Linked DNA regions of Homo sapiens: region 1 is linked to region 2. Evidence: fine-mapped expression QTL. A gene starts in region 2. The other region holds a variant in brackets. All regions are shown on one strand. Distances are between the middles of the regions. Region 1 holds the start of LOC124902353 (small nucleolar RNA U13). Region 2 holds the start of ANAPC2 (anaphase promoting complex subunit 2).

The links. PIP is the estimated chance that this variant, and not a neighbour inherited with it, causes the effect.
Region 1: its variant is the best candidate, but not a certain one, in a credible set for the expression of ANAPC2 in whole blood (TOPMed, PIP 0.54).

The regions. Positions count from the first base shown.
Region 1 is chr9:137,121,681-137,126,062 of GRCh38, reverse strand. LOC124902353 (small nucleolar RNA U13) reads left to right here and starts at 2,455; the gene lies at 2,455-2,554. The variant G/A (reference allele first, on the strand shown) is at 2,377.
Region 2 is chr9:137,186,747-137,191,128 of GRCh38, reverse strand. ANAPC2 (anaphase promoting complex subunit 2) reads left to right here and starts at 2,569. Exons shown (of 13, transcript NM_013366.4): 1 at 2,569-2,713; 2 at 3,026-3,648. The coding sequence starts at 2,597. It overlaps SSNA1 (SS nuclear autoantigen 1), which reads right to left and starts at 2,453. Exons shown (of 3, transcript NM_003731.3): 1 at 2,351-2,453; 2 at 1,864-2,063; 3 at 763-1,322. The coding sequence starts at 2,402. The coding sequence ends at 1,215. RefSeq lists a silencer at 2,062-2,411 and an enhancer at 2,442-2,661.

The DNA of each region.
Region 1 (4,382 bases), 65 kb after region 2:
AATATATTAAAAGAAGTTTTAATATATATATATATATATATTTTTTTTTTTTTTTTTTTTTTTTTGCTTTCTTTGTTGCCCTGGCTAGAGTGCAGTGGCACGATCTCGGCTCACCGCAACCTCCACCTCCTGGGTTGAAGTGATTCTCCTGCCTCAGCCTCCTGAGTAGCTGGGATTATAGGCTCCCGCCACCATGCCTGGCTAATTTTTGTATTTTTAGTAGAGACGGGGTTTCACCATCTAGGCCAGGCTGGTCTCAAACTCCTGACCTCAGGTGATCTGCCTGCCTCAGCCTCCCAAAGTCCTGGGATTACAAGCATGAGCCACCGCACCTGGCCTTAAGATATTTTCTTTTTTTTTTTTTCTTTTTGAGACAGAGTCTTACTTTGTCACCCAGGCTGGAGCGCAGTAGTGCTATCTCGGCTCACTGCAACCTCCACCTGCTGGGTTCAAGTGATTCTCATGCCTCAGCCTCCAGAGTAGCTGGGACTATAGGCATGTGCCACCATGCCCAGCTAATGTTTGTAGTTTTAATAGAGATGGCGTTTCACCATGTTGACCAGGCTGGTCTCGAACTCCCAACCTCAGGTGATCTACCTATCTCAAACTCCCAAAGTACTGGGATTACAGGCATGAGCCACTGCGCCTGGCCTATATTTTCATTTTCAAAGTTTTTTTTTTTTTTTTTTTAAGACAGAGTTTCACTCTTATTGTCCAGGCTAGAGTGCAATGGCGTGATCTCGACTCACTGCAACCTCCGCCTCCCAGGTTCAAGCGATTCTCCTGCCTCAGCCTCCCGAGTACCTGGGATTACAGGCATGTTCCACCATGCCTGGCTAATTTTTTTTTTAATTAATTAATTTTTTTTGAGACGGAGTCTCGCTCTGTCACCCAGGCTGGAGTGCAGTGGCGCGATCTCAGCTCACTGCAAGCTCCGCCTCCCGGGTTCACACCATTCTCCTGCCTCAGCCTCTCCGAGTACCTGGGATTACAGGCGCCGGCCACCACGGCTAATTTTTTATATTTTTAGTAGAGATGGGGTTTCACCATGGTCTCGATCTCCTGACCTCGTGATCCACCCGCCTCGGCCTCCCAAAGTGCTGGGATTACAAGTGTGAGCCACCGCGCCCAGCCTAATTTTTTTATTTTTTAATTTTTTTTGAGACAGAATCTAGTTCTGTCATCCAGGCTGGAGTGCAGTGGCGCGATCTCGGCTCACTGCAACCTCCACCTCCTGGGTTCAAGCTATTCTCCTTTCTCAACCTCCCAAGTAGCTAGGATTATAGGCGCCCACCACCACGCCTGGCTAATTTTTGTATTTTTAGTAGAGTCGGGTTTTCACTGTGTTGGCCAGGCTGGTCTCAAACTCCTGACCTCGTGATCCACCCGCTTTGGCCTCCCAAAGTGCTGGGATTACAAGCATGAGCCACAGCACCTGGCCTAATTTTTGTATTTTTAGTAGAGACGGGGTTTCGCCATGTTGGTTAGGCTGGTCCTGACTTCAGGTGATCTGCCCACCTCGGCCTCCCAAAGTGCTGGGATTGCAGGCATGAGCCACCATGCCCAGCCTCAAAGGTTGAAATAATACAGTATGTATATACACACACGTGGGTGCACATGTGTGTGTGTCTGTCTGCCTCCTAGGCCGGAGTGCAGTTACATGATCCATAGCTCACTGTAGCCTTGAACTCCTGGGCTCAAGTGATCCTCCCATCTCAGCCTCCCAAATAGCTAGGACTACAGGTGCACACCACCACACCTGGCTAATTTTAATTTGTAGAGATGGGATCTCACTATGTTGCCCAGGTGGGTCCTGAACTCCTTTCCTCAAATGAGCCTCCCACCTGGGGCTCCCAAAGCACTGGGATTGTAGGTGTGAGTTAGTGTGTCCATCCATCAAAGTATGTTTTTCAGCCACAATGGAATGACATTAGAAATGAGTAACAGGAGGCCAGGTGTGGTGACTCACGCCTGTAAACCCCAGCACTTTGGGAGGCTGAGGCGGGCAGATCACCTGAGGTCATGAGTTCAAGACCAGCCTGGCCAACATAGTGAAACCTCCTTTCTACTAAAAATACAAAAATTAGCCAGGCATGGTGATGCGTGCCTGTAATCCCAGCTACTCGGGAGGCTGAGGCAGGAGAATCGCTTGAATTCAGGAGGCAGAGGTTGCAGTGAGCTGAGATCGCCTCACTGCACTCCAGCCTGGGCAACAAAAGCGAAACGCTGTCTCAAAAAAAAAAAAAAAAAGAAAGAAACGAGTAACAGGAAAAGCTGGAAAATTTGCAAATCTGTGGCAATTAAACAACATACTCTTAACCAATGGGTCAAAGAAGAACTACAAGGGGAGGTAGAAAATACTTAGAGATGAATGAA[G/A]ACGAGAGCAGAAACTACCAGAATGTATGGGATGGAGCCAGGTTGTGCTCAGGTGGAAATTAACGTCTGTAAACACTGATTTTTTGTAGTTCCTCAGTGTGATGATTTGGTTTCACACTCATGTGAGATGTGCTTTTCTCAAACCTTCTTACAAAGTCAGCGCCTTACCCATCTGACCCCCAAAAACACAGTATGGTCCCCCAGTTCCACTTGCCGTTTCTCTTGTCCTGACAGAAACGTAGGGTTCCTTGACCGCTCTGTGACCTAGCCAGCTGCGTGGTTTTTTTTTTTTTTTTTTTTTTTTGAGACGGTGTCTCGCTCTGTTGCCCAGTCTGGAGTGCAGTGGTGCAATCTCAGCTCACTGCAACCTCTGCCTCCTGGGTTCAAGCAGTTCTCCTGCCTCAGACTCCCAAGTAGCTGGGACTACAGGCGCCCGCCACCATGCTCGGCTAATTTTTGTATTTTTAGTAGAGTCGGGGTTTCACTATGTTGGCCAGGCTGGTTTTGAACTCCTGACTGGGTGATCCACCCGCCTCAGCCTCCCAAAGTGTTGGGATTACAGGCGTGAGCCACCGCGCTGGCCCCAGCTGCGTGTTTTTTCCACATGCTTTTAATCCCAGCTACTCGGGAGGCTGAGGTAGGAGAATCACTTGAATCCAGGAAGCTGAGGTTGCAGTGAGCCGAGACTGAGCCACTGCACTCCAGCCTGGGTGACAGAGGTAGATTCTGTTTCAAAAAAAAAAAAAAAAAAAAAAAAGAACAAGATGCCTGCTTCACCACTGCTATTAAATATTGTACTGAAAGTCCTGCCCAGGGGCAATTACATGAGAAAAAGAAATAAGAGGCATTCAAATGGAAAAGAAGGAAGTAGAACTATCTCTATTCACAGATAACATGATCCTACATATAGAAAATACCAAAGAATACACAAGAAAGCTACTAGAGTTAGTAAACAAATTCAGTAAAGTTGCAGGGCGTAGTATCAACAAGAAAATCAGTTGCATTTCTGTGCACCTGCAACGAACAGTCCAAAAAGGAAATGAAGAAAACGATTCTATTTATAACAACATCTAAAAAGTAAAATGCCAAGAAATAAATTTAACCAAGGAGGTGAAATACTTGCACACTGAAAACTACAACACATTGCTGAAAGAAATTAAAGAAAACCTGAATAAGTGCAAAGGACCCCTCGTTCGCGAGTAGGAAGACAGCATTGTTAAGATGTTAATACTTCCCTAAGCGATCCAAAACAATGTTGAAAAAGAACAAAGTTGGGCCAGACGCGGTGGCTCACCCGTGTAATCCCAGCACTTTGGGAGGCCAACACGGGCGGATTACGAGGTCAGGAGTTCAAGACTATAGGGTCCAGCCCTACTGTGCCTGTGTGTTTTTCTCTTCATGTGCAGAGATGAGAGATCGTAGAAATAAAGACACAAGACAAAGAGATGGAAGAAAAGACAGCTGGGCCCAGGGGACCACTACCACCAAGGCATGGAGACCGGTAGTGGCCCCGAATGCCTGGCTGCACTGTTATTCATTCGATACAAGGCAAGGGGGCAGGTAAGAAGTGTGAGTCGTCTCCAGCGATACGTAAGGTCATGTGAGTCACGTGTCCACCGGACAGGGGGCCCTTCCCTATTTGGTAGCCGAGGCGGAGAGAGAATGGGGACAGCTTATGTCATTATTTCTTCTATGTATTTCTCGGAGAGATCAAAGACTTTAATACTTTCACTAATTCTGCTACTGCTATCTAGAAGGCACAGCCAGGTGTACAGGGCGGAACACGAAAGTGGACCAGGAGCGTGACCGCTGAAGCACAGCATCACAGGGAGACGTTTAGGCCTCCGGATGGCTGCGGGCGGGCTTGACTGATGTCAGGCCTTCCACAAGAGGTGGTGGAGCAGAGTCTTCTCTAACTCCCCTGGGGAAACGAGACTCCCTTTCCTGGTCTGCTAAGCAGTGGGTGTCTTCCCAGGCACTGGCGTTACCGCTAGACCAAGGAGCCC
Region 2 (4,382 bases):
TACAGCCCATGGAACCCAAGCACCATTTCCTCCCTGGAGGATCAAACCTAAGAGCAAAGAGATAAAGAGATGCTGTCTGGCCAAACTCCGGCGGAAGGAGAGTTTGGTGTATTTCCCTGGTCGGGTTAGGCCCAGCTCTTTTCTGGACCCTCTGGATCAACACATGCCTCCCAAATCGGCCCAGTCCTCGGGCCATGCTTGGTTGCTGCAGGGACAAAACAGAGGCCCCAGGGCACATGGAAGGATGGAAGTGGCCAGTGCTTGGTGTGCGGCCAGGGAAAGGTGGGCAGCAGGGCCTGGTGGCAGCAGTGGTGTCATCAGGCCAAGCAAAACTTGCAACTGAGGAACCGACGGGGGTGGGGGGTGTGAACTCCCCCCAGTCCTTGCTGAGAGGGACCTGAATCTGAGGCAGCTGCTGGATATGCTTGGCATCCCCAGCTGTCTCTCTGGGCTGGGTCCTATGCTGGCCACCAGGGTGTGGCAGAGAACAGGACGAGCAAGCAGAGCTCCTGAGAGGAGGGTGAGCCGTGGGCCAGTCAGGGGAAGAGGACCGGCGGCCCTGCTGGGGAGGGCTCAGGGTGGGGCTGGCCTGGGGAGGGTGGGCACCCTCAGCGGTGTCCCTGAGGCTAGTGGGGCAGTCACAGGGAGGCCACTCCAGACCCTCCTCCCTCCTCTCCCAAGGGGGAGCCTCAGGCTCTGGCTCTGCAGGTGTCTGGCAGCCCCATGCTGTTGATACGGGCAAGCAGCAGGCTGGCACGGATCTTTACAAAGATAATCTTTATTCATAATCACAGGCCACAGGGGTGAGACCTGAGGTTTGGGTTCTGTGGTGAAGGAGAACCCCTGTCCTCCTGTCCCTTGCCCTGGGCCTCTGCTGGCTGAGGAGGGACAAGGTGAGGGGGCCCCCATGGTGCTCAGACAACCAGAGCCTCCCTGGCAGGGCAGGAGTGTGGGTGCCACAGAGACAAGCCCCTTGCAGAGCTGACCTGGAGCCCACCATCCCCATAGCCTGTGTGAGCATGAAGCGAGGACCCCCGGGTGGGCTGTGCCCTGGGCTTGTCACTGATGCCAGTGGAGGCTGGCACCTGCCCCTCTCGGCACCTGAGACAGTGAGGGAAGGTAGCTGCTGCCGTGAAGAACAAAGATGCTCTGAGCACACACTTGCTGGGGCTGAGCTGAGGGGCACACGGAGGCAGGCCCTGCCCGTGGTCTGGTCAGCTGTCCCTGCCGCCGCTACTTTTCTGGTCTGGGGCTGTAGCCTTGGTCAGGTTCCCAGCTTCCCTCTTGAGAACGCTGAGCAAAGTCTGGGAGCTCTCCAGGATCTGGGGCCAGAGAAGTGAGAAGGTTGTTAATGTTCACCTGTTGGTAAGGTCCTAAGCCCCAGCTGTCCTCACACTCAGGTGCTGGGACCTGGCTGGGGGTGCTGTAGCCAAGGGATCCTGTGTGGGGGAAGGCGGAAGCCCAAGGGGACTGGCAGACGGGGTGGCAGGGCCCTCTTCCCTCCGGAATCTGACCCAAAACACTTCCTCTCCACCCTCAAAGCCAGGCTGGGTTAGCACTGGCCCGTGCTGGGTGCTCTGCCCAAGACCTGGCTCTTCACACTGAGCAGAAATAACCACATGGCTAGCGAGAACCGGATAAAGACCAGGACCCAGGATGCCCCAGGCCCCACAGACAGCCCCACAGTCACTCCCACAGCAGCCTGGGTTCCTCAATGGGCCTGGCCACGCTGCCCCTGCCCGAAATGCCAGCGAGGCACAGACTGCCCACAGCCGGGAGCCCCAGCCGGTCCTGACGCCTTGCCGTGGCAACACCCCTGCCGTGCCTATCCCCTGATGCTCGGCCTGGCCTCCCGAGCTCCACCTTGAGGTAGGCGGCCTCCGTCTCCGCGATGGTCCGGTCGAACTCGTTGCGAGAGGCAATCTTGCGTGCCAGGTTCTCGTTGACGCGGGCCAGCTTCTCTGTCAGCTGCCTCACCTCATTCTGCAGCCGCTGCTTCTCGTCCTCCTCCTCCTGGATCTGCCGGCACAGCTCCTCCCGCTTCTGGCACAGCTCCTCTATGCCTGGGGGCCGGGAGGGGCGGCGCTGTGGGCCCAGGGCAGGAGCGCGGCGGCGGAGGGCGGGCCTCCTTCCACCCGAGGAAGCCAGAGTCAGGCACCACCCCCGAGCGCCCGGCGCGGGGCCTGCGAGCCAGCGAGGGCTCGGGCCACGGACACCCGGCCTCCGGCACGGAGGGCTCTGCTCAGCCGCGCGATGCCCGCAGCGAGGCGGGTCCAGGGGCACCCCGCTGCGAGCCGGGAACCCGGCCCTGCGGCCCTCCCGACCTCCCCGTCCCGGCTGCGCCGCTCACACTTGACCAGCTCGTTGTTGTAGTTCTGCAGCGCCGCGCCCTGCTGGGTCATGGTCAACGCCGCCCGGGGCCCCACCACCCCAACCGCCGCGGAAGCAGCGCTGTCCGCGCCTGCGCACGACTCCCCCACGGCGCGCCGAACTAGCGCGTCATCGCTGAGCGCCTTGTGCGCGTCATGGCTGCGCGTGCAGACGTGCGTCATCGCCGCGCGCCGCGCCGAGCGAATCTCGGAGTCGGTGGGTGCAGATGGCGGCGGCAGTTGTGGTGGCGGAGGGGGACAGCGACTCCCGGCCCGGACAGGAGTTGTTAGTGGCCTGGAACACCGTGAGCACCGGCCTGGTGCCGCCGGCTGCGCTGGGGCTGGTGAGGCCTGGGAAGAGAGGGGCGGCCCCGCGCGGAGTTTCCGGGACCGTACGCGCTTTGGGGCCGCTACCCTCGGGTTCATACGGCTCTGTCCATCATCCGCCTCTGTCCTGTCCTGCCATTTTCCACCACCTTTCCGTTTCGTTTCGTTCAGCTCCGCTGACAGCCCTTCCATAGCTTCGGCCCAACGTCCGGGCAGCACGGACAGGGGGCAGCGGAGTTTTTGCAGCCTCCCCCTCAGCTTCTTCCCTTCCCCGCCTCTCCCCACCTCTATGTTGTGTTCCCCTCGCCTCACGGTTTTCTGCACCCCAGGTGTCTTCCCGGACCAGCGGTGCAGTCCCGCCAAAGGAAGAGGAGCTCCGGGCGGCGGTGGAGGTTCTGAGGGGCCACGGGCTACACTCGGTCCTGGAGGAGTGGTTCGTGGAGGTGCTGCAGAACGATCTGCAGGCCAACATCTCCCCTGAGTTCTGGAATGCCATCTCCCAATGCGAGAACTCTGCGGATGAGCCCCAGTGCCTTTTGCTACTCCTTGACGCTTTTGGCCTGCTGGAGAGCCGCCTGGATCCCTACCTGCGTAGCCTAGAGCTGCTGGAGAAATGGACTCGCCTGGGCTTGCTGATGGGCACTGGTGCTCAGGGGCTGCGAGAAGAAGTCCACACTATGTTGCGCGGAGTCTTGTTCTTTAGCACCCCCAGAACCTTCCAAGAGATGATCCAGCGTCTGTATGGGTGCTTCTTGAGAGTCTATATGCAGAGTAAGAGGAAGGGGGAAGGGGGCACAGACCCGGAACTGGAAGGGGAGCTGGACAGCCGGTATGCCCGTCGCCGGTACTACCGGCTCCTGCAGAGCCCGCTGTGTGCAGGGTGCAGCAGTGACAAGCAACAGTGCTGGTGTCGCCAGGCTCTGGAGCAGTTCCATCAGCTCAGCCAGGTCTTGTGAGTAGTCTGTCCCGATGGCCATGCCCTTGCTCCTTCTGGTTCCCCGCTGCTCCCCTGGGTCCAGCTGGCCTCAGCAGAAAGCTGGTGAGCCGTCCTGATAACCAGGAACATGACAGAGAGAGAGTCCCAGGGATTCCTGTGCAGCGTGTCCTGGACACAGGTGTCTCTCTTCTGTCACTCACCTTCAGTCCCACAGATTCATGCCTTGACCCTGGTAAGGCCCTATGTGGCTTGTGTCTGCAGCAGCAAATTTCTTAGCAACTCCAAACTTCCTGGACTCTGCAGAATTCCACTGTGCCTTTTGTCGATCCTGGGGAGGAATGATTCTCACCCTCGTCGACATTCCTTGCCCTGTAATTGTGAACAGAAGCTTGCTGCTGCTTCTCTCCAGGAAGATCAGGTCACTGTGAGGGCAAGCAGTCTCTTGTTAGTTTGGAGAGGAGAGGGGTTTGTTGTGAGAGACAGGTCCTGTTGTAGTTCTCTAGCAATTGTCATACCCTTGGCCATTTGTGGTGGTTTTGTCACATTGAACGGGGGTGTAGCCATGCAGCTACTTGAGAGGTCTTAGGTGGACTAAAGGTGGACTAAAGGAGTGCTCCTTTTGCTGGCAGGGGTCAGGGAGACCGTGAAGGGCTTCTGTTGGGCTCATCCCTGCAAAAGTTACACGGCAACTTTTCTCATCCTCCTCTTGAGTCCTTTTGTCACTGTAGACCAGAGACTGCACTGAAAGG